Linked DNA regions of Homo sapiens. The protein of the gene in region 2 purifies or fractionates together with the protein of the main gene of each other region. This does not show direct contact. Each region holds a gene or a part of one and is shown on either strand. Other genes may lie near its edges.

Evidence for each region.
Region 1: the proteins of PABPC5 (region 2) and SLTM purify together in Homo sapiens (affinity purification with mass spectrometry; one large-scale study listed by BioGRID and IntAct). This does not show direct contact.
Region 3: the proteins of PABPC5 (region 2) and DHX30 purify together in Homo sapiens (affinity purification with mass spectrometry; one large-scale study listed by BioGRID and IntAct). This does not show direct contact.
Region 4: the proteins of PABPC5 (region 2) and IREB2 purify together in Homo sapiens (affinity purification with mass spectrometry; one large-scale study listed by BioGRID and IntAct). This does not show direct contact.
Region 5: the proteins of PABPC5 (region 2) and LARP1B purify together in Homo sapiens (affinity purification with mass spectrometry; one large-scale study listed by BioGRID and IntAct). This does not show direct contact.
Region 6: the proteins of PABPC5 (region 2) and AQR purify together in Homo sapiens (affinity purification with mass spectrometry; one large-scale study listed by BioGRID and IntAct). This does not show direct contact.
Region 7: the proteins of PABPC5 (region 2) and RPF1 purify together in Homo sapiens (co-immunoprecipitation; one large-scale study listed by IntAct). This does not show direct contact.

What each region holds. Positions count from the first base shown.
Region 1 is NC_000015.10:58,878,293-58,882,348, forward strand, and holds the end of SLTM (SAFB-like transcription modulator), read right to left. Parts: intron 1,816-4,056; coding exon 1,707-1,815; 3' UTR 758-1,706; downstream 1-757. UniProt on the Homo sapiens protein: When overexpressed, acts as a general inhibitor of transcription that eventually leads to apoptosis.
Region 2 is NC_000023.11:91,433,348-91,438,228, forward strand, and holds the start of PABPC5 (polyadenylate-binding protein 5), read left to right. Parts: upstream 1-1,491; 5' UTR 1,492-1,547; intron 1,548-1,555; exon of another isoform or gene 1,556-1,652; intron 1,653-2,087; 5' UTR 2,088-2,230; coding exon 2,231-3,379; 3' UTR 3,380-4,881. UniProt on the Homo sapiens protein: Binds the poly(A) tail of mRNA. May be involved in cytoplasmic regulatory processes of mRNA metabolism. Can probably bind to cytoplasmic RNA sequences other than poly(A) in vivo.
Region 3 is NC_000003.12:47,808,952-47,813,377, forward strand, and holds part of DHX30 (ATP-dependent RNA helicase DHX30), read left to right. Parts: intron 1-1,705; 5' UTR 1,706-1,732; coding exon 1,733-1,760; intron 1,761-4,426.
Region 4 is NC_000015.10:78,440,792-78,445,217, reverse strand, and holds part of IREB2 (iron-responsive element-binding protein 2), read right to left. Parts: intron 1-4,426. UniProt on the Homo sapiens protein: RNA-binding protein that binds to iron-responsive elements (IRES), which are stem-loop structures found in the 5'-UTR of ferritin, and delta aminolevulinic acid synthase mRNAs, and in the 3'-UTR of transferrin receptor mRNA.
Region 5 is NC_000004.12:128,063,879-128,068,304, forward strand, and holds part of LARP1B (la-related protein 1B), read left to right. Parts: intron 1-4,426.
Region 6 is NC_000015.10:34,962,960-34,967,385, reverse strand, and holds part of AQR (RNA helicase aquarius), read left to right. Parts: intron 1-3,095; coding exon 3,096-3,152; intron 3,153-4,426.
Region 7 is NC_000001.11:84,488,792-84,493,217, forward strand, and holds part of RPF1 (ribosome production factor 1), read left to right. Parts: intron 1-841; coding exon 842-937; intron 938-1,527; coding exon 1,528-1,681; intron 1,682-4,426.

The DNA.
Region 1 (4,056 bases), on a different chromosome or scaffold from region 2:
TGAGTATTAGGCAAGGGAACATATGTCAAACGCTTAGCACATTGCCCAGCACGTAAAGCGCTTAGCCAGTGTTTGCAGCTGTATGATAATCCCTTCTAAGAAGCACAGTCCCACTCTACAAATGAGGAAACAACGAGAAGTGACATTCTAACCCAAAGTCACCAACATTCACTCCAATGGATACTGAGGCTTCTCCTGTGCCACTCTACAACACGTAGTGATCAAAAATGAGGTAGACCTCCCCTACACCAACGCAGACACCCAACCTGCTCCCACAGCTGTAGGACTGGGAATGGCAGAAAACGTAAGAAATCCAGAGAAGTTCCCCAAAGGACCAGAGACCACAGAACCTTGGTTGCCCCACGGCACTCAGAAGTGTGAGCCATCTCATGGGCATGACCGTATTGAGCATAGAGAGTGCTGAATTTACCAAAATCTAGACCATTTGGATTTTTCTTCACTGATTTATATAAAGGGATGTGGGAAGCTTTTTTGAAAGAGCAGCATTTACCTTGAAGGGCTTTCCTAAAAGAGATGCCTTTAAAAAAGCCATAGGATTAGTGGTTAAGTCTCTAACATGTGAACAGCATGTGCTGCCCAGCTACTGAGGTGAAGAGTCTAAGCTAGATTTATTTCTGAAGAACAAAGACCAAAAGAATGCCTTTATAGCTCTATATCTAGTCAGTCACCTTGGGCTGAACTACAGAAAGAACTGGACGACTAACACCTAAAACGCTGAAAACAAAGACACATACACTTCCAGGTGTGGATTTTTATTTTCACAAAAAGACAACAATGTCTTCCCCACATACAAGTATTTACAAAACCCAACTGATTCACCCATCTAGAACCTGGGTTTTTTTCCACTTCTCAACATAGTTGGGAACATGGAAACATTAATACCCACACAATTCCCAGAGATGGAATTTATCCATCAAACAAACAGTGCAGATTACCTAAAAGTGCACTTACCTGCACAACTCGGTCTAAGAACCTTGTGAAACAAACCTCATGGCCAAGGTTTCATGAATCTATTTGGTTTCATACCATGCAAACCTGAACAAGTGTGCTGCTACACTAAACTGAAAATCGGTTCTCATTTTACAATTAAAAAGGTTCTCAACACTTTAGCAACTATACAGAATATGAAGGTTTATTTCAAAAAAGATTACATTTTTTTAAACCAGGATACACAGATGCACTTAATGTAACAGTACCTTCTGCAAAAATAGGTTACATAATACTCAGAAATGCAATGAACAATCTTATTCTCTAAAAATTAGACAGCTAAGACTTCTTAAGTGTAGACAGCCTTCAAAATGGAGGCTGAAAATGCTTGGTAAAAAGAAGTAACTCTAGAGCCAGACACCACAGAGCTAAGGCTGCAAATTAAACCACTACCACACAGCTGCAAACTACTCTTTATATTCACACAGCGTTAAACAAAACGACTTCAATTCCATCTTTTCAAATGTGCCTCGGTGCTGCAAGAAAAAAAGTTGAATGATACACAAAACTATTAAAAGTTACAACAGAACTATTTAAACATCTTCTCCAAAATTGAGAAAAGCAATCATGTTAAATTTTTAAAAAGAAAAGTCTGACAGAACTCTCAAGCAAGTCAGAGGTCCTCTTCATAAGTAGTCAAGTAAAGTTTACAGGAGATTTCAATAAATTATCTTAAAACCTTGGCAGAGAGCTCATTTTCAGAATCGTCGCGGAGGTCCACCCTTAAATGGCTTAAATCCGGAGCCACTTCCTCTTGGCATGGAATTGCCACTGATTTGTACAATTCTATTAATTGGGGATGCGTTACTGAAAAAGGTTTAAAAGAAAAAAACATCAGAGAACAAAGAACAAATCATCACTGCAAATACCAGGCACTGTTCTTGGTACTTTATCCAAAATAAATCATTTACTCTTTTCAACAGTCCCGTGAGGTCTGAACCATTGCTAACCCCACTTTACTGAAGAAACAGATCTGGAGGTTGAGGAACTCTTCCAAGGTCACAGAGCTAATAAAATGGTGAAGCAGAGATTTGAACTTGGGCAATCTCACTTTGAAGCCCCATTACTTCAGAAGCCAGTTGTGGATCTGCACGTGGACTACAGCAGCAGATCTCTTAAGTGTGGACCCCAAACCAGCAGCAGCAGCACCAGCTGGGTGCCTGTTAGAAATGCAAATTCTCACCCCCATCTCAGACCACAGAGAAAGAAACTGAGGGTGGGACTCCCAGCAACCTGTGCTTTTCTTTGTTTGTTCTTTTAAATATATATATTTTTAGACAGGGCCTCACTCACTTCACCGAGGCTGGAGTGCAGTGGCACATTCATGGCTCACTGCAGCAGCCTTGACTTCCTGGGCTCAGGTGATTCTCCCACTTCAGCCAGCCACCAGAGTAGCTAGGACTACAGGCAAGTGCCGCCATGCTCAGCTAATTTTTTTTATTTTTCTTAGAGACAGGGTTGCGCCATGTTGGCCAGGCTGGTCTTGAACTCCTGGGCTCAAAAGATCTGCCAGCCTTGGCCTCCCAAAGTACTGAAATTACAGGCAGGAGCCACCACGCCCGGCCAACCTGTGTTTTAACAAGCCCTCCAGGTGATTCTGTTGTTTGCTAAAGCTTGTGAACTAAATTATAGAAGTCATTTAAGAATATTTCTGGAATCTTTATGTGTAATGCAACAGAGCAGATGTTAGTAACACAAAAAAGCAGACCCCCTCCCCCGACAAAAAACCTTTAACAGGCCGGGCGCAGTGGCTCACGCCTGTAATCCCAGCACTTTGGGAGGCCGAGGCGGGCGGATCAAGGAGAATTGCCTGAACCCGGGAGGCAGAGGTTGCAGTGAGCTGAGATCATGCCAATGCACCCCAGCCTGGGTGTCACAGCGAGACTCCATCTCAAAAAAGAAAAAACTTTAACAAACCAGGAGATAAAAATCTACAGTGAAGGCCGGGTGTGGTGGTTCACACCTATAATACCAGCACTTCGGGAGGCTGAAGCTGGAGGATCACCTGAGGAACAGGAGTTTGAGACCAGCCTGGCCAACAAAGTGAAACCTCCATCTCTACTAAAAATACAAAAAAATCAGCTGAACATGGTGGCACACGCTGTTGTCCCAGTTACTTGGGAGGCCAAGGAAGGAGAATCACGTGAACCCAGGAGGCGGAGGATGCAGTGAGCTGAGATAGTGCCACTGCACTCCAGCTTGGGGGACAGATACTTCGTCTTGGAAAAAAAAAAAAATCTACAGTGAAATGGTTCAGGCAGAATAAAACTAGATTATAAGGGCCAGGCTGAGGAATCTGGGCTCAATCCTGTGACCTGGAGCAGCTGCTTGTTGTGGTTTTAGAGCAATAAATGGTATAATAAAATGGGAGTTTCAACAGTTCAATTTACAAATGGGGTAATGGAACACAATAATTGGGAAGATCAGATAGAAGCTAAAATGAGGAATAAGGGATAGCTATGATAAACTTTCTTTTTGTAGAGACAGGGTTTTACCATGTTGCCCAGGCTGGTCTCAAACTCCTCAGTTCAAGTGATCTACCTACCTTGGCCTCCCAAAGTACTGGGATTACAGGCATGAGCCACTGTGCCCAGCCTGAGAAACATTTAAAAAAAAATAGAGCCACACGGCCGGGCGCAGTGGCTCATGCCTGTAATCCTAGCACTTTAGAAGGCTGAGGTGGGCAGATCACAAGGTCAGGAGTTCAAGACCAGCCTGGCCAACATGGTGAAACCCCATTTGCTAAAAATACAAAAATTAGCTGGGCGTGGTGGTGCACGCCTGTATTCCCAGCTATTCACTTGAACCCAGGAGGCAGAGGTTGCAGCGAGCCGAGACTGCACCACTACACTCCAGCCTGGACAGAGCAAGACTCTGTCTCAAAAAAAAAAAACCACACTTAGAAATTTATACTAGGAATGAAGAAAGGTAAGGACAAGCCCCGTATTTCCAGTCAGGGTGAATGAAATGGATGGTGGCACTATCAAATTGAAAGAAACTGGAGGCAACAAAAGGGACACAAAGGTTTGAAAAAGGAGAGGAATGAGT
Region 2 (4,881 bases):
CTGTAAAACCCATTTATTAGTCTATAATATCATTGTTCATATTTGCCTTTTCTCAAAATCTCCATGTCTTAGTTAACCAAGAACACTAGAAAGCAAGCAAAAAAAAAAAATAGTAAAGAAAATTACTAAGTTTTTGAGTAAATAATGAGGTTTAATGTCAACTCTACAGTCTAATAGACACTATAAAATGTATAAAGTGAATGAATACGTTAATTTAGCCTCTTATTCTGAGGACTTATTAGGAAAACACCCACTAAGGTAATGTCCTTCTCTTGCAATCTTTTTTTCCCAGGATCTTTTCCAGCCTAAGAGTAGTGATAGATGTTTTGTTTGGATTTTTCTGGAGGGGTAGGAATTGTGGAAGGAGCCTCTTGAAGTGTTGTTTGCGCATGCTAGATATCAGTGAATTTCTGAAAACACGGTCAAAATTTCTCTCCAAAAGGGTTTCTCAAATACTCTGAAGAGAGATATTGTTGAGAAACTGCTGAGTTGAGTCCAGTCTGATGGCACTGTTTCCTTCAAGGGTTTCAAGTTGACAACTCATGATGAAATTCATAATTGTGTAAAGTGCATATATCTTAACATGTTTATTTCATCTGTAAATATTAATTACATATTTTGTATTGATTCTGTGGCTTTTATCTCTTTAACTGAGATTTTGTAACTGTAATTCTCGCGGCAGCTCAACAGTTTCAACGTTTTGTGGCACTAAACACCATCAAAAGCCATTATATGGCTCTCCAATCATTAAAACCTTAGTATTATGGGATCAGAGAAAAGATCTCTTTGCCTACCACCTGAGGAAAATATTACCATTATGTTGGAGATTAATGAAGTAAGGCTAAAGGCCAAAGGCAACATGGTCCTGTGTTCTACTTGACCCTGTGATCCTTTAGCACTGGATTGGGAGGCCAGGACATTTGTAAACTTTGACTTTCCAATGCACTCAGGAAAGTATGCAACCTATCCTTTTCCCTAAGCTTAAATGATTTTGATAATTAGTTTTTTAAAACTTATTATTTTTGCCCAGGTCGTCATCTTCTTATGTGATTTTTAGATGTTCGGCTTAAATATAGTGTTTTAAATAATAAATAACATTTAAAATATAAGAAACATCTAAAAGCCATCTTAGATTTTTCTTTCTCTCCTTCTCTCTCTCTCTCTCATTCTCTCCCCTTCTCTCTCTCTCTCTCTCTCTCTCTCTCTCTCCCCCCTTCTCTCTCTCTCTTTTTTTTTAAATCTTGGTACAGAGGAAGCGGGAAGTTACTTAGCACGGTTCCGGGTTTCTCGCGCCCCGCCTGTCCCCCCTCCCTATCACTGCTACTGGCTCTTGGTCCCTCCGTTGGACTGTCCTGCGGAGAGAAACCCCAGCCCATCGGTCTGCGCTGGGACCGCCCGCCGCGCATCTGCCCTTCTTCGCTGACTCCGCCCCGCATCTGGCCAGACCCGCCTCGCGTCAGAGCTGACCCACTCACTGCGCGTTTGCCAGTCAGTCTCTCCGGACCTGCCTCGAGCCTCAGGCTGCTGAAATCACCGCGCCTCACTCGGTCCGTACCCAGTGGGCATCTTGGGTATCTGGGCGGTCTTCGATCCCCCGCGCGTGTGTCTGTCTGTCTGTCTCTGTGTCCTATCCGCTGCCTGCAGCCTGCCTGCCGGTCTTATCGCACCAAGTGTCTGGTGTACCCTTTCGCAGACGCTGAGTGCGGAGAGGCCTTAGCGAAAGGCTAGCCAGCCCGAGACTGGCCAGGCAGCCGGCGGAGGAATACGCGCTCGGTCCCTGCCCTTGTTGATATCATTTTAAACCAACAGGAGCTCTAGGCCTATATTTATGCAGAAAGCGGGTCGGGAGGCCTCTGTCTGCAATGCTAGTTGTGGGGAACCAGCCAGCTGCTTGGTGGCTTCTCACAATTTCACGGGGACAGGAAAATTACGTTTCTGGTACTGGCTTTTGAAACTGATTTTAAATCTGAACGGGTGACAATTTTAAGTCCCCGCAGGGAGAATAGATTCGTATTTGGGGCGCCTTTTTGTCTGATGTGTTTGTTCTGAGCCTGCTGACCAGCTGTTTCTGAACTTCATTTTCTCAGCCTCGACAGTGATTCTGAGTCTGCTTTTAGCTTCCTTTTGCCTGCCTTGGCTTTTTCTGTTCGTGAACAGCTGTTTGGCCCATAGCTTAGAGAAAGCAGCCTTTTTTCTCTTCAAAGAGAACCTCCTCCCAGTGCTCAGAGAGATGGGGAGCGGGGAGCCTAATCCTGCTGGCAAGAAAAAGAAGTATCTCAAGGCCGCTCTGTACGTGGGTGACTTGGACCCAGATGTCACCGAGGACATGCTCTATAAGAAGTTCAGGCCTGCTGGCCCTCTGCGATTCACCCGAATCTGCCGTGATCCGGTGACCCGCAGCCCCCTGGGCTATGGGTATGTTAACTTCCGCTTTCCCGCGGATGCAGAGTGGGCCTTGAACACCATGAATTTTGATTTGATTAATGGAAAACCATTCCGCCTTATGTGGTCTCAGCCAGATGACCGCTTAAGAAAGTCTGGAGTGGGAAATATATTCATCAAAAACCTGGACAAATCCATAGACAATAGGGCCCTGTTTTACTTATTTTCTGCTTTTGGGAACATTCTGTCCTGCAAAGTCGTATGCGATGACAACGGCTCTAAGGGTTATGCCTATGTTCACTTTGACAGCCTGGCCGCTGCCAATAGAGCCATCTGGCACATGAATGGAGTGCGGCTCAACAACCGCCAGGTGTATGTTGGCAGATTCAAATTCCCAGAAGAGCGGGCGGCTGAGGTCAGAACCAGGGATAGAGCAACTTTCACCAATGTTTTCGTTAAAAACATTGGAGACGACATAGATGACGAAAAACTGAAGGAACTTTTCTGTGAATATGGGCCAACTGAGAGTGTTAAAGTAATAAGAGATGCCAGTGGGAAATCTAAAGGCTTTGGATTTGTGAGATATGAGACACACGAGGCTGCCCAAAAGGCTGTGCTAGACTTGCATGGAAAGTCCATCGATGGAAAAGTCCTCTATGTAGGGCGAGCACAGAAGAAAATTGAACGCCTGGCTGAGTTGAGGCGGAGATTTGAACGGCTGAGGTTAAAAGAAAAAAGTCGGCCCCCAGGGGTGCCTATCTATATTAAGAACTTGGATGAGACAATCAATGATGAAAAACTGAAGGAGGAATTTTCTTCCTTTGGGTCAATTAGTCGGGCCAAAGTGATGATGGAAGTGGGGCAAGGCAAAGGATTTGGTGTGGTCTGCTTTTCCTCTTTTGAAGAGGCTACCAAAGCAGTGGATGAGATGAATGGCCGCATAGTGGGCTCCAAGCCCCTGCATGTCACCCTGGGCCAGGCCAGGCGCAGGTGCTGAGAATAAGAATGCTCAGTTTGTTTCAGCCTTAGTTGGTGCCTCCTTAGTTTGGGCTCCTTTGTGATAAGGGGTTATTTTATGCTAATTCACAAGTTTTTTTTTGAAGTGAATTCTTTTGAAAAAAAAATGCAAAACTAGAAAACTTTATTCATTTTAGAATAGAACATAATTTCTAACTGTAAAATTGTCATTTTGTACTTTTTTTGATGTAATATCCTTAGAAATCTGTAGAATAAAGTGTATTCCTCCACTTTTTTTTCCTGAACAGTCAAGGTGAGGCAATTGATTGAGTATATTTCCCTTCTTATTTCAGTAATACTCTATTTTTTTTCATGAAAATGTCAACATGGTTCTTCTGAATCTATCACAGTGAAAAGTTCTAACTTGTTTTTGAGAAGTCAGTACAGCAGGGGAAAACATATGTGATGCAATTAACATCTGCATAATTTCACTTAAAATTATTATGCAAAAATGAATGTTTTTTCAAAAAATGTGAAATGTATTTTATTTTCTTTATTTGTATTCTTGTTTCATTTTTTAATATGTTGTGAACATGCTACAGATTTGATAGTACTTTTGACTAAATGTTGGGAGTGGTCGTATTAACTTCTTGCCCAAAGAAGTAAGCATATTGGTGTTTTCTCAATTAGTCACTGAGAAAATTAACACTTTAGGCAGTGGCTATTTAAAGTAGGAATTGCATCTTAAAAACCTTTCCTAAGAGATTTGGTATGTGAGGATACTTTCAGTACCACTCCTACCATTCATTTTTCTAAATTCCTTAGTACATATACTTGGATCATGTTAAATTAACAAGAAAGATGAATAACTGCGCTGAATTGCCTTTACCTATAAATAATTTAATATTTTACCTTCGGGTTTTATCAACTGTCAATATAAAAGGCAGTACTCCACAGAATGATGTTGAAAAACTTCTTCGAAGAACACCTTCTATTAAACTTGTTATCTCTTGTAAATTATTGTGTGTGTCCTTTTGATAATATTCACAGGTGTTTCAAAGGTAAGGAATAGGTTGTCTCTTGGATTAAGTCATATGCCTCCAGCCATTATATGAGAACTGTGAAACCAATATGGTTTTCTTTATGTCTTGGCTGCTTGAAAATTAAAAAAAAAAAAGGTTTGTTCAATATTGCCGTTACATTTATTAGCCTGTAATTTCTAAATTGGAGATTCTCTACATTTCACTTGCAGTTTCCTGTTCTCCTCATTGCCTGCCTTCCATTCATATTACACTTATTTTTCTATTTTTTGTATTACCTTTTTAAAAATATATACCAGTTCAAGTCCTTTTAGGAAGAAGAAAATACCTAATTTATGTAAAATTTAAATAATTACTTTTTTATAATATGATTCACTTATGCCACAGATTCAACATTAGAATATGTTTTATCTCTACTGTCAGTTTTATTACCTTATATACAAATCTTCATTTTCATACATAGTACAATGTAAATATATAACTTTGTTAACACTTTTGTTAG
Region 3 (4,426 bases), on a different chromosome or scaffold from region 2:
GATCTCGGCTCACTGCAACCTCTGCTTCCCGGATTCAAGCGATTCTCCTGCCCCAGCCTCCCGAGTAGCTGAGATTACAGGCGCCTGCCACCGTGCCTGGCTAATTTTTTGTATTTTTTTAGTAGAGACGGGGTCATGTTGGTCAGGGAGTATTGTTTTTTAAGTAATATTCACTTAAAATGTTTTAGATTTTATAATATTCTGGTTTTCTTTTAAATTAGAATGTCAAATTACACACTTTTTATTTTCATTTGGATAGAAGGTGTCTATGGAATGTAACTTCTTTTTTTTTTTTTTTTTTTTTTTTTGAGACGGAGTCTCACTCTGTCGCCCAGGCTGGAGTGCAGTGGCACAATCTTGGCTCACTGCAAGCTCTGCCTCCTGGGTTCACGCCATTCTCCTGCCTCAGCCTCCTGAGTAGCTGGGACTACAGGCCCGCACAACCATGCCTGGCTCATTTTTTTGTATTTTTTTAGTAGAGACGGGGTTTCACCGTGTTAGCAAGGATGGTCTCGATCTCCTGACCTCGTGATCCGCCCACCTCGGCCTCCCAAAGTGCTGGGATTACAGGCGTGAGCCACCGCGCCTGGCCGGAATGTAACTTCTTAAAGTAAATGTTATCATTGTTGATATTGTATTGAAGTTTTCTCTGTGATATACCATATCCTATGGGCTGAAATTTCCAGCATCCCTTGGGGAGTGGAGGCCATCAGGGCAGACCTGCTATGGACCTGAAAGATTCCGCCCCAGGTCAGCCCTCCACTCCCCACCTCCCCACAATTTGAGAATGAGAGGGAACAGGAGTCAGGAGCCGGAGTGTTGGCCCCAGTAGACTCCAATCAATGTTGGACATGATTCTGATTGGCTAAACACTGTGTAGATGTTTTTAAACAAAGTCCATTTAAGGTTACTGCACTAATCAAGGAGTACTGGATTATAAAAACATCTATAAATCTGAGTTTGAGTATTTTTTAAAACAAAATTGTTAAACCAGATGTGTTGCTTTTTTTTCTTGTCATCTCTAAGTATAGTCCTCAGTTAAATATACTAATAAGCAAAATGCACCAAAACTTTTGGCTAATAGTTGTGCTTTAACTTAATATTTGTTATTTCATAGAGACTGCTATGAAAAGCTTTTTATTCTGAATCACTGTACAGTTATTCTTTGATCCTGTCAGTCAAATCTCATTTTTAGGGTCTTGACTAGGTTTTATGAAAGCCCAGTAAGGCAGTTTGCCCATAAGGCAGTCATCAGTCCTGTTTCCTGATGCCACATGACAGAAGGGGTCCATGTAGAATTTCGTTTCTTCCTGGAAGTCCCAAGGAAACCTGCAAGTATTATGATAACTAGGAAGGAAACCTGCAAGTATTATGATGAACTGGGAAGGAAACCTGTAAGTATTATGATGAACTAGATAGAACTACATGTCTCTCATGATGAAATGCATCTCCCTCTGTTTAACAGGATATGGGGAGTTTTAGGACAGGGAAGAAAGTGCTCAATTAGAAAGAAGCAAAGACAATTACTCTAGAGTGGAGCTGGCCTTCCAGTCCTCAAGACTGGGGAGCAGCAGTTGGGGCTCATTAGTGAAGAGTTTCATTTTTTTCATTTTCTGAACAGTGCTCTCCATGTTACTGAAGTCTTCTTTGTGGGTTGCTGGACCAGGAATATTAACCATTGCCTCTTGGCCCTCCTTGTTCTCAGGATTCCAGCTTTCCCTCCTGGCCAGAAATGTTCAGCCTGGACTCATTCAGAAAAGGTAAGACTGCAACTGTGCTTGTGACCTCATGCCCTTCCTTATTGGGATGGGCAGCTCTGAGGGCTGTGAAAGTCTCTCCCCAGTATGTAGTTCTTGCACATTTCTTTGGGTGGTTTTCCAAAGGCCTTTCCTATAGCCTTCCTTTTGCATGGTGCTTAGAATCTGTGCCAACCCTTGCCATGGCCTTTGCCATGCTTCCTCCCAGTGCCCCCTTCTGCGTACTCCCTGCTTATTAAAATCCTTTTTTTTTTTTCTGAGATGGAGCCTCACTTCTGTCGCCCAGGCTGGAGTGCAGTGGCACGATCTCGGCTCAGTGCAATCTCCTCCTCCTGGGTTGAAGCAATTCTCCTGCCTCAGCCTCCGTAGTAGCTGGGATTACAGGAACCAGCTGCCAAGCTCGGCTAATTCTTTTTTTTTTTTTTAGTTGAGACGGGGTTTCACCATGTTGGCCAGGCTGGTCTCAAACTGTTGACCTCAAGTGATCCACCCACCTCGGCCTCCCAAAGTGCTGGGATTACAGGTGTGAGCCACCGTGGCTGGCCTCTAAAATCCTATTTTTCTAGGCTAGTATTTTATACCATCTCCTTCATGAACCTTTCCTAATTCTGTTGACCAAATGCAATCTTTCTCCAATCTTCCTCGGTACCATACCTGTTCGTTCTCATGGTTAGTCTATTCTGAATTAATCATTTTGTCACTAGATTGGAAGCTCCCTGTAGCCAGGGCCTGTTGTGTGCTTTTACGATGCATAGCACCTGGCCAGCATTTCGCACATAGTAGGCCTCAGTAAACACTGGTGGAAGTTGGATTGAGTCTGTATTAGGCTGTTCTTGCATTGGTATAAAAAAATACCTGAGACTGGGTAATTTATAAGAAAAGAGGTTTAATTGGCTCACATTTCTGCAGGGTGTATAGGAAACATGGTGCTGGCATCTGTTTGGCTTCTGGGGAGGACTCAGGGAGCTTTCACTCAGGGGCAGAAGGTGAAGCGGGAGCAGGCGTGTCACGTGGCAAAAATCAGGATCCAGAGAGAGAGAGTTGGGGAGGTGCCACACAATTTAAACAAGATTGGCTGGGCATGATGGCTCACGCCTGTAATCCCAGCACTTTGGGAGGCCAAGGTGGACGGATTGCCTGAGCTCAGGAGTTCCAGACCAGCCTGGACAACACAGTGAAACCCCATCTCTACTAAAATACAAAAAATTATCCAGGCGTGGCAGTCTGCGCCTATAGTCCCAGCTACTTGGGAGGCTGAGGCAGGAGAATAGCTTTAACCCGGGAGGCAGAGGTTGCAGTGAGCCGAGATTACACCACTGCACTCCAGCCTGGGCAACAGAGCAAGACTCAGTCTCAAAAAAAAAAAAAAAAAAGGCCATGTGTGGTGGTGGGCACCTGTAATCCCAGCTACTTGGGAGGCTGAGGCAGGAGAATCGCTTGAACCTGGGAGACGGGTTGCAGTGAGCTGAGATCGTGCCATTGCACTCCAGCCTGGGCAACAAGAGTGAGATGCCATCTCAAAAATAAATAAATAAATAAATAAAATAAACAACAGGATCTCATGAGAGGCTGGGCGCAGTGGCTCACACCTGTAATCCCAGCACTTTGGGAGGCCAAAGTGGGCGGATCACTTGAGGTCAGGCATTTGAGACCAGCCTGGCCAACATGATGAGACCCGTCTCTACTAAAAATACAGAAAATTAGCTAGGCGTGGTGGTGTGCACCTGTATTCCCAGCTACTTGGGAGGCTAAGGCACGAGAATTGCTTGAACCCAGGAGGTGCAGGTTGTAGTGAGTCAAGATTGTGCCACTGCACTCCAGCCTGGGCGACAGGGCAAGAATCCATCTCAAAAAAAAAAAAAAGATTTCATGAGAATTTACTCACTATCACAAGGATAGTAGCAAGCCATGAGGGATCCATTCTGTGACCCTTCAACAGCAGAGATTACATTTCCTTTTTTTTTTTTTTTGAGACGGAGTCTCACTCTGTTGTTGCCCAGGCTGGAGTGCAGTGGCACGAGCTTGGCTCACTGCAACCTCTGCCTCCCGGGTTCAAGCAATTCTCCTGCCTCAGCCTCCCGAGTAGCTGGGACTACAGGCGTGTGCCACCACACCCGGGTAATTCTTGTATTTTTAGTAGAGATGGGATTTCGCCATATTGGCCAGGCTGGTCTGTAACTCCTGAGCTCAAGTGATTTCGCCCATCTCGGCCTCCCAAAGTGTTGGGATTACAGGCGTGAGCCACCAGCAGGAGATTACATTTCAACATGAGATTTGGGTAGGGACAAATATCCACACTATATCAAAGTCATTCTTTCGTTAGTGATCATAGAAACTCTGGCAAGTCTTGCCGGGCGCGGTGGCTCACGCCTGTAATCCCAGCACTTTGGGAGGCCGAGGCAGGCGGATCACGAGGTCAGGAGATTGAGACCATCCTGGCCAATATGGTGAAACCCCGTCTCTACTAAAAATACAAAATAAAAAATTAGCCGGGTGCGGTGGTGGGTGCCTATAGTCCCAGCTACTCGGGAGGCTGAGGCAGGAGAATGGTGTGAACCCAGGGGGCGGAGCTTGCAGTGAGCCGAGATCGCGCCACTGTCTGGCCTGGGCGAAACAGCGAGACTCCATCTCAAAAAACAAAAAGAAATTCTGGCAAGTCTTGAAATTAG
Region 4 (4,426 bases), on a different chromosome or scaffold from region 2:
CGCAATGAACTGAGACTGTGCCACTGCACTCCAGCCTGGGCAACACAGCAAGACTCTGTCTCAAAAAAAAAAAAAAAAAAATAAAGACTGGAACCAACAGTAAATAGTGAAAGTATAAAAATAAAAGCGTGTGATGGGGTGGAGGAAATAACATACTTTCAATCCAACAATTCTATATAATGATAAGTTTGCACAAAAATGTAAGTATTAGCACATACAAAGTTTATTTATAAATAGAGAAAAGTTACTATCAGCCTCAATATTCAAAGGTCTGTTAACTAAACCACAATGCATTCATACAGGCAATATTGTGCAGCTATTAGAAGCCACAGAGAAGTACAGGTATCCCTTTCTACCTGAACTCAAGCTCCCTGACTCAGAAACCAAGTAGATTCAGATAGCAAGGGATACCTGTATTCAATGACATGGAAAGATGTTCATGATATATTAAGTGAAAAAAAGGGTTACAAAACAACATATACTTTATTTTTATTAAAAGTAGCATATTTACATATATTTTTGTATACACATAAAAATGAGACTTTCTGTACCATCTGCAATGTTCTTGTCTTTTTGTGATTCTTCTAAATGATAAAAACTCTCCTAAAAAATTAAATACAGGATTTTCTTCCAAAGGCTGCAAGGTAGGATTTGGACACTAAGTCCCGGCTCTACTGGAGGACTAAGCAGTACTGTGGTTAAAAAGGCAAGCAGACAGGAAGGACAAAAGAAAGGGTGAATAAGATGACCTGAGATAAAGGGTGCCTGGGGGCTTTACACCACCAGAGGCCCTGTTGCCCAGTAACAGGTACTCTCTCAAAACTACCTTTCACTCCAGCCAGGCCAGTCTCTCCACCATCTTCCCCTTCATTCAACATAGTCATTCATGTTTCCATTATGCTGTTCATTCTAATTCTCTGATGTTAACTGTCCTCCATCATACATGGAGACACCACTGATTTCTCCACTCCTTAAAAATAGCAATAGTTTCAAATTCAGAGATCTACTTAAGAGAGTCACCCAAATCAGCTACTTGAGAGGGTGAGGTGGGAGGATCTCCTGAGCTCAGGAGTTCAAGGCTCCAGTGAGCTATCATCATGTCAGAGCACTCCAGCCAGGTTGACAGTAAAACTCCATCTTTATAATTTTTTTTTTTAAAGAGTTACTCAAAATCTACATTTTGAGACTACCTAGATTTTGACATGTTTCTAGTCAGCACATTGGGAGTGCCAGACAGCCAGCTCCAGAATATTAAAGAGATTCCCCACAACTGGCTGCGTGCAGTGGTTCACGCCTATAATCCCAGCACTTTGGGAGGCCAAGGCAGGAGGACTGCTTGAGGTCAGGAGTTTGAGACCAGCCTTGTTAATATGGCGAAACTCCATCTCTACTAAAAATAAAAAATCAGCCGGATGTGGTGGCACACACCTGTAGTCCCAGCTACTTGGGAGGCTGAGGCACGAGAATCGTTTGAACCCTGGAGATGGAGGTGGCAATGAACCAAGATCATGCCACTGCACTCCAGCCTAGGTAACAGAGCGAGCCTCTGTCTCAAAAAAACAAAACAAAATAAAACAAAAAACAAAAAAAACCCCACAAAAAATAAAAAAACAAAGGAGATTCCCCACAAGCAAAATCATACAAGATCAAAATGTAATCAATGTCTAAGATGTGCCCACTTCCATAGAGATACCCTGAGTATAAATTTGGGAAGCAAAAGGATAAAATGGCAGTAAAAAAGCAGAAATCAAATAATCTGTGTTGAACTCTATCTAAAGTCAGAATAAGAGAAGGCATCAGGTTGGTAACGCAGATAGATTAGGCTGGTTCACTCACCACCCACTCCCAACCACTTCTCCCTTTCCTTTCTCTATTGTAAAAGATGTAAAGGTAAAATACAGTACCCCATCTTATCTATGGTTTGGCTTTCTGTGGTTTCAGTTACCTGCAGAACAGCACAATAAGATACTTTGAAAGAGAAAGACCATATTCACATAACTTTTATTACAGTACATTGTTATAACTGTTCTATTTTATTATTAGTTATTATTAATCTCTACTGTGCCTCATTTATAAATTAAGTTTTATCATAGCTATGTATGTATAGAAAAAAATATATACCAAACAGTACATACACGGTTTGGTAGTACCCATAGTCTCCGGTGTCTACTGAGGGTCTTGGAACATATCCCCCATGAGTAAGAGAAGACCTTGATTATTCCATCTTTCAGCCTTCTTGAAGCTAAGAGTGGCCACTGATACTTTGGCCAAAGAGGCAAAAGCCCCTGGAGAGGGCTTTTATCATGGTTATAAAAACTGGTAATTCTGGAATTATGTTAAGTACACATGTACTCTGTACAGTTATGTACAAATTCCCATGACAGCTTATTTCCCAGGGAAAATTTAACTTGGACATAATGCCTGGAGGTGCAACCAAAAGAATAAAAACAGAACGGGAAGAAAGGACGAGCCTAGATCCTTGCGGAGATTGGTGCTGCACAGCCCCAGTCTGCCAATCTCCACACTTCGTTATGTTAGAAAAATAAACTCGTATTTCTTAAAGTCATTGGACAGCAAGTTTTCAGTTCTTTGCAGCTGCAGGCATCCCTGACATAGTCAGCATGGAGCTTAGAACAGTGTTTCTCAACTATCTTTACTCTGTAACATTTATGAGGGATAGAATCCATTCCCTTCATTAATCGTTACTCATTACAACAGTCATTCTCAACCTAGCAGGCATCAAAATGTGGAATGGAGGTGGAGAAGACTGGCTCTGTACCTTGGTGACTACCAAAGCAATGTCTTCTTGTAAGCATATGTCTAGGAGGCAATTCAATCTGATCCTTTCAAAAATGCAATAAGGATTTTTTGTTCTAAGGTTAAACAACCAAATACTTCCTACCTAACTTGTTCCTTTCTTTCAAAGTCAATTCTTCAAATTTTATTCCTTATTAGGAAATTACTTAAGTAATTATTACTTAATAACCTCTCATAATAAGCACTCTATTAAAAAAGCAGGAGGGGCTGGGCGCAGTGGCTCACTCCTGTAATCCCAGCACTTTGAGAGGCTGAGGTGGGTGGATCACTTGAGGTCAGGAGTTTGAGATCACCCTGACCAACATGGTAAAACCACCATCTCTACAACTAGCTGGGTGTGGTGATGCACGCCTATAGTACCAGCTACTTGGGAGGTTAAGGCACGAGAATCGCTTGAACTCAGGAGGCAGAGGCAGCAGTGAGCTGAGATCACACCATTGCACTCCAGCCTGGGTGACAGAGCAAGATCCTGTCTCAAAAAAATAAGTAAAATAAAATAAAATAAAATAAAATAAAAACCAGGGTACTGACCCCACATAAAAACCAACTTTCTGTTTTGAAAGTATTTATAGTCACAGGTATTCTATTATTACATTTATCATGGTTATAAAAACTGGTAATTCTGGAATTATGTTAAGTACACATGTACTCTGTACAGTTATGTACAAATTCCCATGACAACTTATTTCCCAGGGAAAATTTAACTTTCAGATTATCAATCATTCCCTTTCAATGCATTTTACAGTTGTTTTTGACAGTTTCCTACTGATTCCTTAAATTTGAGAAATTTAGGTCATCTTCCTTCAAGTAAGCACATTTCTACAGATTATACACAGAAAGTATTTATACTCAATTTTCAAAACATCTTATGTGCTCCTTTAATTTATTAAACTATGAAATTTGGGTTAAAAGACTTCCAAGCCAGTATCACTAGATTATTTTGGAGAAGTAAATGGGAAATAAAATGACTATTCTTGTAAACGATCAATCTAGCTGTTTCTTTTCAAAATTAATGCAAACTCACCATCAGTGAAGGGATAAAATTAATGTGAAAGACATACATTAAGAAAATGACCAACTTCCTTTAACAAACGTATCAACACAAATCACTGCAGCTAAACATGCAAGGTAAAGGATATTGCTCTCATTTTGGCAAACTGTTTATTTTTAAATGACAGCCTAATTCTAAAATGGGGATTCTTTAAGATACTCCAAAATAGCTGTATTTCACAATACACAAAAAATATTGCACATAGCAGTCAAGAATATTTAAATTCCTCAAAATCTACAGAAAAATCACAAGAACAATCGTCTTAATTAAATAATGCAAGAAAAAACAAGATTAAAGCTCCTTCCAAAACTGACTGCAACAGATGTGGCATTCAATTTATCTTTTCATGTCATTGTCATGGAAAAGTTCACAAAGAATAATGAGTCTTCTAAAGAGGTCTCTCTATTGGCCCAATTGAGAAAGTTACTCAACTGTTAGTAAAGTCAAAACTTCCATTCAATGCCCTATAGGTCGCCCACATTCACTCTTCTGAGACCACAGAGAAAGGTTTGACCCTGATAAGGTCAATGAGAATGTCTGCCAAAACTGCAGGTGTGT
Region 5 (4,426 bases), on a different chromosome or scaffold from region 2:
TCATTTTTATTTAAAATTAAAGGTTAGCAGCAGAACAAGAAATATTTGAGCGTGTTTACTGGCTTGTGAGGATCAAATGCGATGAAGAGGTGGTATAAATGTAAGGCGATTGGCTGTGCGCGGTGGCACACGCCTGTAATCCCAGCACTTTGGGAGGCCGAGGCGGGTGGATCACCTGAGGTCAGGAGTTCGAGATCAGCCTGGCCAACATGGCGAAACCCCGTCTCTACTAAAAATACAAAAATTAGCCGGATATGGTGGTGCGTGCCTGTAATACCAGCTACTCAGGAGGTTGAGGCAGGAGAATCGCTTGAACCCGGGAGACGGAGGTTGCAGTGAGCCAAGACTGAGCCACTGTATTCCAGCCTGGGTGACAGAGCAAGACTCAGTCTCAAAAAAAAAAAAAAAAAAAGTACGGTGATTGTTACAAGCACCCATTATGTTATGTTAACATTTCTTCAGAGGAACTCTCCAAAGAGGGAGATATGTGTTGAGTTAATTCATTCATTTGCCTTTGCACAGAAATACTCCTCATTAATTGTTGATAAATTTTGACACTTGCAGAAAAAAAGTTTGCTCTGGATTTAATATTGGCATAATTCCTTCCTCGCTATAAAGAGCTGTTTGTTTACTCCTATTACTAACTAAAGAGAACATGGTTAAGTGAAGACCTCATAAAGTTTTTCTTTTTTTTCTTTTTTAAAGCCCAGTGGCAAGCACTCTAAAATTTAGCAAAGAAAGAAAACCCTAGTGAATCATCTTATTTGCTGTTTCACCTCTCTACTTCTAGACTTACAGACAATTAAGTGAATTACCAAGTAGGAACTCTTTGTTGATCATAAAACCAGTATCATAGATTTTAAAACTTCGAAGCCATACATGGTAGTGTGTGCCTGTAGTTTTAGCTCCCTGGGAGGCTGAGGCAGGAAAAATCAGTTTTGCCCAGGAGTTTGAGGCTGTAGTGTCCTGTCATAGTGCCTGTGAATAGCCACTGCATTCTAGCCTGGGCAATATAGCAAGACCACGTTTAAAATAATAATATTAATAATAATAATAATGATAATAGAACTTTAAAAACTGTCAAGGTAAGCCTTGGGAACTTTAATTGCAAATGACCTGTGAAAAATATTTAACAGTTAAGCTATTGGTGCCTTCATTCTCCAGTCTTCACTGGAGATTAAGAACACTGTGATACTAGTTGTATGGTATGGTTCATGGAAATTTCAGTTTTGCTGTTGTCTTGTGTAGGCAACTCTTTCTGTCTTTGGATGGAATCCATTCTGCACTGGCAGGAAGACCATCTTTCAGACCTGGCATAGTGTAGTAACCATGGTCTCTTCCCAACACTGACTCTGCACTGTTCTCCCACAATTAATTTCTTTCTTTCTTTCTTTCTTTCTTTCTTTCTTTCTTTCTTTCTTTCTTTCTTTCTTTCTTTCTCTCTCTCTCTCTCTTTCCTTTCTTTTCTTTTCTTTTCTTTTCTTTTCTTTTCTTTTCTTTTCTTTCTTTTTTCAAGAGATGGAGTCTCTCTGTGTTTCCCAGGCTGGTCTTGAACTGCTGGCCTCAGGCGATCCTCCTGCTTCCCAAAGTGCAGGGATTACAGACATAATCAGGCTTTCTATTTTCTTAAGCAAATTTACAACTTCAGGAGTAAAGAAACAGGACCACAGTCTATTTGCAGTTAAATAACTTAGGTAACTTAGATAAAAGAGATTGTGGTGTAGAAACATACTGTTTTGAGAGACTTGGGTTCTAGTGCAGGTATTGTTACTAACTGGCTAGTTGACTTCTGGCAAGATTTCTGGGCATTATAAATGAATAACATGGATAGACTCATTTCCTCTGGTTCATAATACCAGAGTGCCACTTATAACCTGGCTGCCTTGGCTTCCATTTATATATTTATTTAATATTATTTAATTCATTTAAATAAATACATTTTACATTAGTTTATTTAAATAGGTAGATAGATTGTCAGTCTTGCTCTATTGCAGTGGTGAGATCATAGCTCACTGCAGCCTTGACCTCCTGGACTCAAGCAATTCCCCTGCCTTGGCATCCCAAGTAGTTGGGATGACAGGCACGCATGTCATTCCATGGAATTAGCCATGCCCGGCTAGTTATTTTTAATTTTTTTTTGTAGAGACAGGGGCCCCCTTTGTTGTCCAGGCTGGTCTTGAGCTCTTGGGGTCAAGCTATCCTGCCTCAGCCCCCACAAAGTGCTGGGACTACAGGTGTAAGCCACCCTGCCTGGCGGCTTTCTATTGTCTATTTTCTTTCTTTCTTCTTTTTTTTTTTTTTTTTTTTTGTTATATTGAGACAGAGTCTCGCTCTGTCGCCCAGGCTGGAGTGCAGTGGTGCAATCTCTGCTCACTGCAAGCTCCGCCTCCCGGGTTCACACTGTTCTCCTGCCTCAACCTCCTGAGTAGCTGGGACTACAGGCGCCTGCCACCATGCCCGGCTGATTTTTTGTATTATTTTAGTAGAGACGGGATTTCACCATCTTAGCCAGGATGGTCTCGATCTGCTGACCTCGTGATCCGCCGGCCTCGGCCTCCCAAAGTGCTAGGATTACAAGCGTGAGCCACTGCGCCCGGCCTTTTTTTTTTTTTTTTTGAGATGGAGTTTCATTCTTGTTGCCCAGGCCGGAGTGCAATGGTGTGATCTCTGCTCACCGCAACCTCCACCTCCTGGGTTCCCCCGATTCTCCTGCCTCAGCCAGCCAAGTAGCTGGGATAACAGGCAAGCGGCACCATGCCTGGCTAATTTTTATATTTTTAGTACAGGCAGGGTTTCTCTATGTTGGTCAGGCTGGTCTCGACTTCCTGACCTCAGGTGATCCTCCCACCTCCACCTCCCAAAGTGCTGGGATACAGGTGTGAACCACCGTGCCTGGCCGGGCTTTCTATTTTCTTGCCATTTTTTTTTTTTTTTTTGAGACAGAGTCTTGCTCTGTCACCCAGGCAGGAGTGCAATGGCGCGATCTTGGCTCACTGCAACCCCCCACCTCCCAGGTTCGAGCAATTCTCCTGCCTCAGTCTCCTGAGTAGCTGGGACTACAGGCGCGCGCAACCATGGTTGCCCGGCTAATTATTTTTTTTTAATTTTTACTAGAGATGGGGTTTTACCACGTTGGCCAGGCTGGTCTCGAGCTCCTGACCTCAGTTGATGCGCCCGCTTCGGCCTCCCAAAGTGCTGGGATTACAGGGGTGAGCCACCATGGTTGACCTCAGGCTATTTTCTTAAGCAAATTTGCAACTTAAGAAGTAAAGAAATAGGACCAGAAGTTGTTTAAAGTTCACAGTGGGTACCTCTAAATCTATTAGTTATCTATTAGTGATTGTATAATTTATACTATATAAATTGTATAATTCTACAAAACAGGATGCTCTTTGAGAGAGAGAATTGTATTGAAATAACAGACTTAAATCAGGTCTATCCTGCTCAAACTTGGATTTACTGTTACTCTGTTAATGAGGTAAAGGAATTCCATCCACAGAATTTTGCCAGGAAGTTTATTACTACAGTTAGAAACATAGGAAACACAGGGGAGAATATTTCAGGACAGAAATTATGAATTTTCTCTACATTACAACCTGCACATCTAAGTGAACCAGATTCTTGATGCCTCGGCCCTTGTGAGAAATTTTCTTCCACTTTTAGGATGATTTTGATCATGTGTTGCTGTTTCTAGAAATCCAGATGAGGCACTCTTCAGCCAAAGTTGCTGCCCACCCAAGAGGCCTTTTATCTTGAAATTTAGTCATGAGACCAGAAGGAACTTCTCCCATCTGTGTCCTGACTTGGTATTAGTTTTATTTTGGATACCTCCTTTTTTTTTTTTTCTTTTTTTGAGATGGCGCCTTGCTCTCGTCGCTCAAGCTGGAGTGCAATGGAGCAATCTCATTGCAACCTCCATCTCCCGTGTTCAAGCGATTCTTCTGCTTCAGCCTTCCGAGTAGCTAGGATTACAGGCGCTCGCCACCATGCCTGCATAATTTTTGTTTTTGTTTTTGTTTTGAGATGGAGTCTCGCTTTGCCACCCAGGCTGGACTGCAGTGGCACAATCTCGGCTCACTGCAAGCTCCGCCTCCCGGGTTCACGCCATTCTCCTGCCTCAGCCTCCCGAGTAGCTGGGACTACAGGCGCCCGCCACCTTGCCCGGCTAATTTTTTGCATTTTTAGTAGAGACGGGGTTTCACCACGTTAGCCAGGATGGTCTCGATCTCCTGACCTCGTGATCCACCCGCCTCGGCCTCCCAAAGTGCTGGGATTATAGGCGTGAGCCACTGCGCCCGGCCAATAATTTTTGTATATTTAGTAGAGATGGGGTGTCACCATGTTGGCCAGGCTGATCTTGAATTCTGGACCTCAGATGATTGACCCACCTTGGCCTCCCAAAGTGATGGGATTGCAGACATGAGCC
Region 6 (4,426 bases), on a different chromosome or scaffold from region 2:
TAAATGCTATGAGGAAAATGAAACAGGGCTGTGACAGACTGGTTTGAGGTGTATGAAAGACAGTCAGGAAAGTTCTCTCCGAGGTGACATTTGAGCTAACACCTGAATGCAAAGAAGGAGCCAGTTTTGAGAAGAGCAAGGAAATAGCAAGTACACACACCTTAAGGTGTGAATGTAAAGAAGGCCAGGGTGGGCCGGGTGCGGTGGCTTGTGGCTCGCAGTGGGATTACACCTGTAATCCCAGCACTTTGGGAGGCTGAGGTGGACGGATCACCTGAGGTCGGGAGTTCGAGACCAGCCTGGCCAATATGGAGAAACCCTGTCTCTACTAAAAATACAAAATTAGCCGGACGTGGTGGTGCATGCCTGTAATCCCAGCTACTCAGGAGGCTGAGGCAGGAGAATCACTTGAACCCAGGAGGCAGAGGTTGCAGTGAGCTGAGATCACGCCATTGTACTTCAGCCTGGGCAACAAGAGCGAACTCCATCTCAAAAAAAAAAAAAAAAAAAAAAAAAGGCCAGGGTGGCCTTGAAGGCAAAGATTACCTTTCTTTGCACTCTAGAAGAGCCTAAACAGTATCTGGCAAATATTAGACATTAATGTTTGTTCCCATGGCCCAAGATTGCTGAGAACCTTCCTTTCTCACACTACATCTTAATGATCTGGCATATTTGTTCATTAATTCACTTATGTATCCATTTGACAAATAGTCATCACACAGTGTGTGCCTAGTACAATACCAGGTGCTGGGAGTACATGGGGAATAAAACAGACATGTTCTCACAATCTAACACACAGTCTGTGGAAGGAGACTTTAAGAGACTTAAAGAACTCACTGTAGTTTAATGTGAGAAATGCCAGATTGGGGTATAAGGGAAGTGCTTTGAGAAAAGAGCATGAAATTATTACTTTGTTGAAGGAAAGAATTTCCAAGAAGAATTTTCTCATTGAGAAAGTATCATTTGAGTTGGACTTTGAAATGCAGAGAGGAAAGTGGGGGAATTGGTTTTCTAGGTAGAGGGGACATCTTGGGCTTAGGTGTTTTCTTCTTCTTTCTTTTTAATTTAATTTCTGAGCATCTGGCATACCTAGCCAGAAAAGGTACTTTTAAAATTATTTATTGAATGAATGAGATCAAGAGGTTAAAATTTAGTTTTAAGGAGATTGGAGATCTGAACTTTGTGACCTCACTTTTTTATACCATTATATTTTTATTTCCTTTTTTGTCTTTCAGTAAGGTTTACTTTAAACAGTTTATACTGTCATAGCTGTACTAAGTAGAGAATGGAAAGTTTTTATTTTACATGAGACTAGAGAGTTTGAGGGAGGGCAATGTGTATATACTGTGAGATCGTGATATTTGAGACATTACACGTTAGACCCCAAGGGAAAGGAGAAACTCAGAGAAGAGACATGATAGATGCTTAATAAATGTTTGCTAATCTTTAATCAAGTACAGATGTACAGTAAGCAGTTTAGATCAGAGATAGGATATACATTTTTATTTGTAATTTCCTGAGTCCATCATAACAGGTTAGACTCAATTCTCTTAATGGTATGATGTAAGAAGAAGATGACTGAATTTATGATGCCCATAGGGAGCAGAATGAGGAAATGAGGACACCACAGAATAACTGGGGGTGAGGTGAAGATTTTCTATTGAGTTGGAGAGTGATTGGTAATTTGGGAAGGTGTTATTTATTTATTTATTTTAGAGACGGAGTCTTGCTCTGTCGCCCAGGCTGGAGTGCAGTGGCTTGGTGTTGGCTCACTGCAATCTCCACCTCCCAGGTTCAAGCAATTCTCCTGCCTCAGCCTCCCAAGTAGCTGGAATTATAGGTGCACACCACCAAGCCTGGCTAATTTTTGTGTTTTTGGTAGAGATGGGGTTTCACGATGTTGGCCAGGCTGGTCTTGAACTCCTGACCTCAGGTGATCCGCCTGCCTCGGCCTCCCAAAGTTCTGAGATTACAGGCATGAGCCACCATGCCTGGCCGGAAGGTGTCATTTAAGTAGGAAGTTACTGTAATATTTTTAGAGGCTATTCCTCAGGGCCAGTGTCCTAACTGCCTGGGAGGCTCTTTAAGTGTGTTGTATGTGTTCATCACTGAGCTATAAAAGCAAAGAAAACAAGTCCCATCTCTTAAGTATTCCAATTAAATGAGAAGGAAAGATGGATAAGCAATCAAATATTTATAATATAGAAAGGTAAGATTATAAAGAGTTATATACAAAATGAAGAGAAGGAGAAAGCAATTGTCACCATCAGGTAGTGTTGAGGACAGCCTCACAGAAGTAACATTTCAGATTTTGCTTCATTTGTCCATCCATTCATCCATCAGACTTTATTAGTGCCTCTGATATGCCAGACACTGCAGAGTAGTCACCTTTTTATAAATATATTGAGTCTTTGTGCTTGCCAGTTTTCTATTTTTAAAGAGATTATAATTGGGTTTTAAAACAAAACCCTATGAATAAGACTATGCTGTTTCTTTAAATATGTAGAGAGAGTTATATATTTGTTTAAATTTCACAATTTACAGGTCAAGCCTAATCTGCTGAAATATGCCAGCTCTTATATTCTCTGTAATAAGCAGCCGATAGACTACAATTTTTTTTTTTTTTAGGTTTTGTTATGGGTGTGAACTAATCATTTAAAGGCTCATTATTTTAGGAAAGCATTCATGAAGATTTTGAGTATCATTTGTAATACTTGCTCAACTATTAACTAACTGTAATCTTGGGCAGATCACTTATTTTTTCTAGACCAGGGTTTCCTTATTGCCATGCTGAAGATGTTTGGCTCTGTGGTTATTAACTGAGCTGTATTGTTTCTCTAGGGTGGTTGGAGAGGATTTTGTTTGTTTGTTTATATCACAATGGCATGTTGTAGTGCAAAGCACTACTGGCATTTAGTGGTTTGGGGTCAAGGATGCCAACTGGCCTGCATGCCTGTGTAGTGCCTTCAGATATACTCTGTCCCCCAGTGCCGAGTAGGGCCTTGTTAAGAAACCGCTTATCACTAAATGATCTGTCTTCCAGCTCTACAATGGCAAGAATCTGGGACTTACTGTTTATACTGTTTACTTTGCAGTTAGCATGTAAATACTGGGCTCCCCACATCAAGAAGAAATCACCTTTTGATATAAAGGTAAGTATTTTTGGTTTCAACATAATTCTTGAGAAGTTACACTCCTTTTAAAGGGTTATTTCAACAAAAGCTTTCCATAATTTTTTTAAAATTAAAAACAACCTAACGATCTACAAAAAATACAATTTTTTGCTTATCAAACTTAGCAATGATTTATGTTAGGAAATTTGGAAGACATAGAAACTACACATAAGAAAATAATCACTACACAGAGATAACCTCTCTTACCATTTTGTTGTATTTTCTTTAAGCCTTAACAAAAATGTGTATGTGGCTGGGCACGGTGTCTCACGCCTGTAATCCCAGCACTTTGGGAGGCCAAGGCCAGTGGATCACAAGGTCAGGAGATCGAGACCATCTGACCAACACGGTGAAACCCCATCTCTACTAAAAATACAAAAAATTAGCCGGGCATGGTGGTGGGCGCCTGTAGTCCCAGCTACTCGGGAGGCTGAGGCAGGAGAATGGCGTGAACCTGGGAGGCGGAGCGTGCAGTGAGTCGAGATCGCACCACTGCACTCCAGCCTGGATGACAGAGCGAGACTCCATCTCAAAAAAAAGAAAAAAAAAAAGTGTACGTGTATAATTTACTTAACTGTTTTTCTGTTTATAGATTCTTAGGTTATTTTTAATTTATCATTATTATAAATGATCATGTAATAAATATCTTTGTAAATATACAGAAATTTTTGTACAAGTTTTTGATAGTTCATTTAGGATTAAATCTGTTGGGTTATCTTGTTTTTAGAGTGGTGAATGAGGTAAAGGTCTATAATAAAGATGGAAGGAGCAGCAGTTGTATAGTGTAATAACTTAAGTCCAGTAATATTCAATAAGGGAATTGAACTTATTCAATTGAATAAGTCCAACTGAAGCAATTTAGAACAAATAATATGACAAATTCCCAAATATAGGGTTAATTCTCATTGGATTAGGTTCTTAAAGAGAGGTCTAAGGCCAGGTGTGGTGGCTCATGCGTATAATCCTAGTGCTTTGGGAGATCAAAGAGGGAAGATCACCTGAAGCCAGGAGTTTGAGACTAGACTGGACAGTAGTGAGATCTCGCCTTTACAAAAAAATTAAAAAAATTGGCTTGTGCAGTGGCTCACACATGTAGTATCAATTGCTCTGGAAGCTGAAGCGGGAGGATGACTGACTGAGCCCAGGAGCTTGAGGCTGCAGTGAGCTGTAATCAGGCCACTGCACTCCAGCCTGGGCAACAGAATGAGACCCTGTCCCTTAAAGAGAGTGAGGTCTTTAAATGAAATAGATGT
Region 7 (4,426 bases), on a different chromosome or scaffold from region 2:
GCAAATATTGAGGTGATTATGTGGCTTTTCTCTTACTGCATTAAACATCATAACCAAATTGGATTTATTAATTCTTTGCTTAGAATTAATTATATCTGTGTTCATGAGTGAGACTACAGTAATGTCCACTTTTCGTTCCTAATATTATTTTATTTTGGCTTTTTCTCTTTTTTAAATCAGTTTTTACCAAGATATCTATTCTCTTAGTCTTTTCTGAGTACTTTCTTCTTTGATCCTGTTGAATCTTTGTTTTCTAATTCATTTATATCTCCTTTTATCTTTATTATTTTCTTCTGCTTCCTTTGAGTTTATTCTGTATTTATTGATTTGCTCAATATATATTTTTTCTAATATGAGCAGGTATAGCCATAAAACTCTTTCAGACTACCACTTTTGGTATATTCCACAAATTTTAAAAGGTACTACTTTCATTAATGTTTAAATCTGAGTGTCTCTCAATGGAAGATTTGTCTTCTCGTAATTTCATTAGTTTTTTTTGGTTCTTTTTTTGTTTGTTTGTTTTGTTTTTTTTGTGGTTATTGTTTTTACTAACCAAGTTGATGAGGGAAATGAAAGTAGTTCAAGAGTAAACACATCTCAGTTTCTGCCCTGAAGTGATTTCTGACAATTTTATTCAGTTTTGTACTTGTATTTTACACAGGAGAAATCCACTCATCCATTCTCTTCACGTGTCCATTAATGTCAGTCCTTCCTAGTCTGTCTTTAAAGCCCCTATCAGCTAGATACTCAGTGTCCAACAGTCCTGCTGATGCTACTTTTAGAATTCTGGCCCAGTAGAGTATTTCTTTGATGTAAAATTATTCCTCTTCTCTGTTCTCAGGTCGCTTATGATGAAGCTACAGATGAATTTGCTTCTTACTTCAACAAACAGACTTCTCCCAAGATTCTCATCACAACATCAGATAGACCTCATGGGGTAAACACATTGATTAATTTAGTTCTTGAATTCTTAATTTTCTTATTACTTCTATTTAAAGTACTCTGTTCAGAAGAGTTAAACCATTAGTTAATTGCCTTAAAGAATGCCTGTGACTAAGTAAATAAAACGTAGCTCTGGTAATATGATGTAGGTTTACTAAACATGATTCTTCAAGATAGGATTTCTCAACCTCAACATTGTTAACATTTTAGCTGGAGAATTCTTTGTTATGGTGAGCTATCCTGTTCATTACAGGATGTTTAGCAGCTTCCCTGGCCTCTATGCTTTAGGTGCCAGTAGCAACCACACACCACTACCACTACCATCAGTCATAACCATCAAAAATGTCTCCAGACATTGCCAAATGTGTCCTCTGATGGAGCAGAATCGCCCCTAATTGAGAACCACTGCTTTAGGATGATCAGCCTTTGATAAAAGAGGACACACTGTTCGAGTTTCATGCTTTCCTCAATGTTGCTTTCTATTAATCATAATAATTATTATTTCTTTCCTTATGAATATGTACCACATAAGATTTTTATTCTTTTTTGAAAACTATTCAAAATTTTTGTTATTTTGTTTTGCAGAGAACAGTACGACTCTGTGAACAGCTCTCCACAGTTATACCAAACTCACATGTTTATTACAGAAGAGGACTGGCTCTGAAAAAAATTATTCCACAGTGCATCGCAAGAGATTTCACAGACCTGATTGTTATTAATGAAGATCGTAAAACCCCAAGTATCCTTTTTTTTTTTAAGGAGGTTTTCCTGTCCTCTCCCTCACCCCCCTTAAAAATATATTTAAAAGAATAAGGAAATATTGCCTATAACTTTCAGAAAATAATTTTTTTATCAGAAAATTGTATCTCTTTCCAAGAGTCTATAAACTGATTTTTCCTTTGTATTCACCAAACATTTATCAGGCACATGCTACAGCCAAGAGATTGTTGTAACTCTTAGTAAAAGATGCAGAGCTAAAACAAGAGACAACCAGGAAATTCATAGGTGGAGTAAATGGATATGTAAACTGACAAAATATAGTGTGGATGGTACAATTAAATAGAGAAATGCAGGATATAGTGGGGACCCTGTGACTGGTACAAAGTCTGCCCTGGGAGGAAAGACTTCCCATAGAAAGAGATGCTGAAGCTGGATCTAGATGGATGAGGGTGAAGGAGGGGAATAAGGCAGAGAAAAGCGCTCAGTGCAGAGGGACTACCATTTGGAAAGAGAGGAAGGAAAGGGCTGACCTAGTTGGGGATCTGCATATGGTTTGTTGTGGCTAGATTTTACATTGCCAGAGGTGGTATCACAGGATTAAGTTTTTGAGGTAGAGACTTGGGCCCATGTTATGTGTGTGTTCCAGTCTAAAACTTTTTCTGTGAGTCTCAGACCTGAGATGAATGTGTCACCTGAACCCAAGGTATTTCTTCCTGTTGAGATAAGAGATTTGATAAAGGATATCTAGGTTTGTTATTATTGTTGCTGTTTTATTTATTTATTTATTGAATGATGGCTATGAGTTCAGTAACCTTAAAGATGACCAATTGAATGAGTCATCTTTATGATTTTTAATTTCATTAAAATAAAATTATAAAGAATTTACAAAATAGGGACAAGACTTTCTGTGCTGCCAGAATAACATTTTATTTCTAATATCAGTGAACACTCTATTAGTGGTTTAAAAGGCTGTTTTTAAAAAATCTAACTTTTATGACTTTAATTGTTATCAATATAACTTACTTTATCCACTTGTACTAGTAGCTTTCCAGAAACTACTATAACAAGCTTTGTAATGTGTTTTGTTGGCCATATTATAATTTGGCTTAACTGGATTAATGTACCAAAATATCTAAAATCTCTTGAATACTTAACTACTCCAGAAAAAAATTATTTTTAAGGTAGTTGCTGCCTCTTTTTCTTTTTTTAAACTGCCTCCACAAAGTGGCAAGGTCTGTTTTCCTCTTTTTATTTTTGGCAGTTAAAAAACAACTGTCATCACTTTGAGGCCACTAGTAACTCTGCTAAGAAGCAGGCATTCATCAATTCAATAAATGTTCTATCCCTGTTTTATCCAGGGTGTTTTATATAGTCACACAAATTTCACTTATACCATCTATTGCCTTTAAAAAGTTTACATTTTCTGGCCGGATGCGGTGGCTCACACCTGTAGTCCCAGCACTTTGGGAGGCCTAGGCCAGCAGATTGCTTGAGGTCAGGAGTTTGAGACCAGCCTAGCCAACACAGCAAAATCCCATCTCTACTAAAAATACAAAAATTAGTTGGGCGTGTTGGTGCATGCCTGTAATCCCACCTACTTGGGAGGCTGATGCACTAGAATTACTTGAACCCGGGAGGCAAAGGTTGCCATGAGCAGAGATGGTGCCACTGCACTCCAGCCTGGGTGACAGGGCAAGACTCTGTCAAAAAAAAAAAAATGGTGATTATCCTAGAGACTTAGCATGGGTTCAGGAATAAAAATCACAACTCCTAATGGTGACACATGGGGGGAAAGTTGAAAAAACAGGATTTAGCCTGTGGGAAAGTAGATTCTAGGAACATGGCGTCTTTCTAAAGACCATTGGAGGGGCTACTGTGTGGAAGAGTAGTGCTGAATGGTGAAAGTTAAAGGGATATACTTTTTTGACTTATTCTAAAATAGAATTTCATCAGCTGTCTAAACTGTAGAAACCTAGTAGTGGCTTTGAGTCAGGGCAGCTGTGATATCAAATACAGATTCCATTATTTTCTAGTTTTGTGATTTTAGTCACGTTTCTTAGCCACTCAATTTCCTCGTTTTTTAAATGTGGGAAATAATACCTATCTTTAGAGTTCCCACAAAGATCACATTAAATGTATTATGTTTATAAAGCATAGTGTCTGGCACATGGTAGGCATTTTAGTAAACGTGGTATAGTGAGAAGCATGTAAACTTTATCTGTACAGACCTACATCCTCTATTCATTATTTCTAAATGGGGAACTACTGTTATTTGAGGTAGGGTAATTATTTGTGCTACACTCTTGGCAGCTTCCAAGATGGTTTGCATTCCTGGCCTTTGGATTCTAAATGCCAGTAACACCTCAGTCATACTGACAAACAAAATGCCTCTGTACATTTCCAAATGTGAGCAGCTGTCAGCAGGGGGCTTAAGCTAGGTGCAGTCCCACCGTGGTTGAGATCTGCAGTTGCCTTAGTCTGATTTACTTAGGCTAATTTACTTGACCCTCTTCAGCCTCTTTTCCTCATTACTGAAATAGGCATGATGACTCCTGTTTTATGTGATTTGTGTTAGGGATTAGCAGTAATGTAAATAAAGCCTCTTGCACAATGCAGGTACATGGGAAAAGAAGTTATTTAGAAACTGGTAAGTTTGGGTTTTGTACTTGGCTTTTGACACAGACCACAATTTAGTGGGAATGTTCTAGAAAGGATTTAAGCCTTGATTTGGGCGTTGGAAGAAATGACTTTTATATCTCCTAGA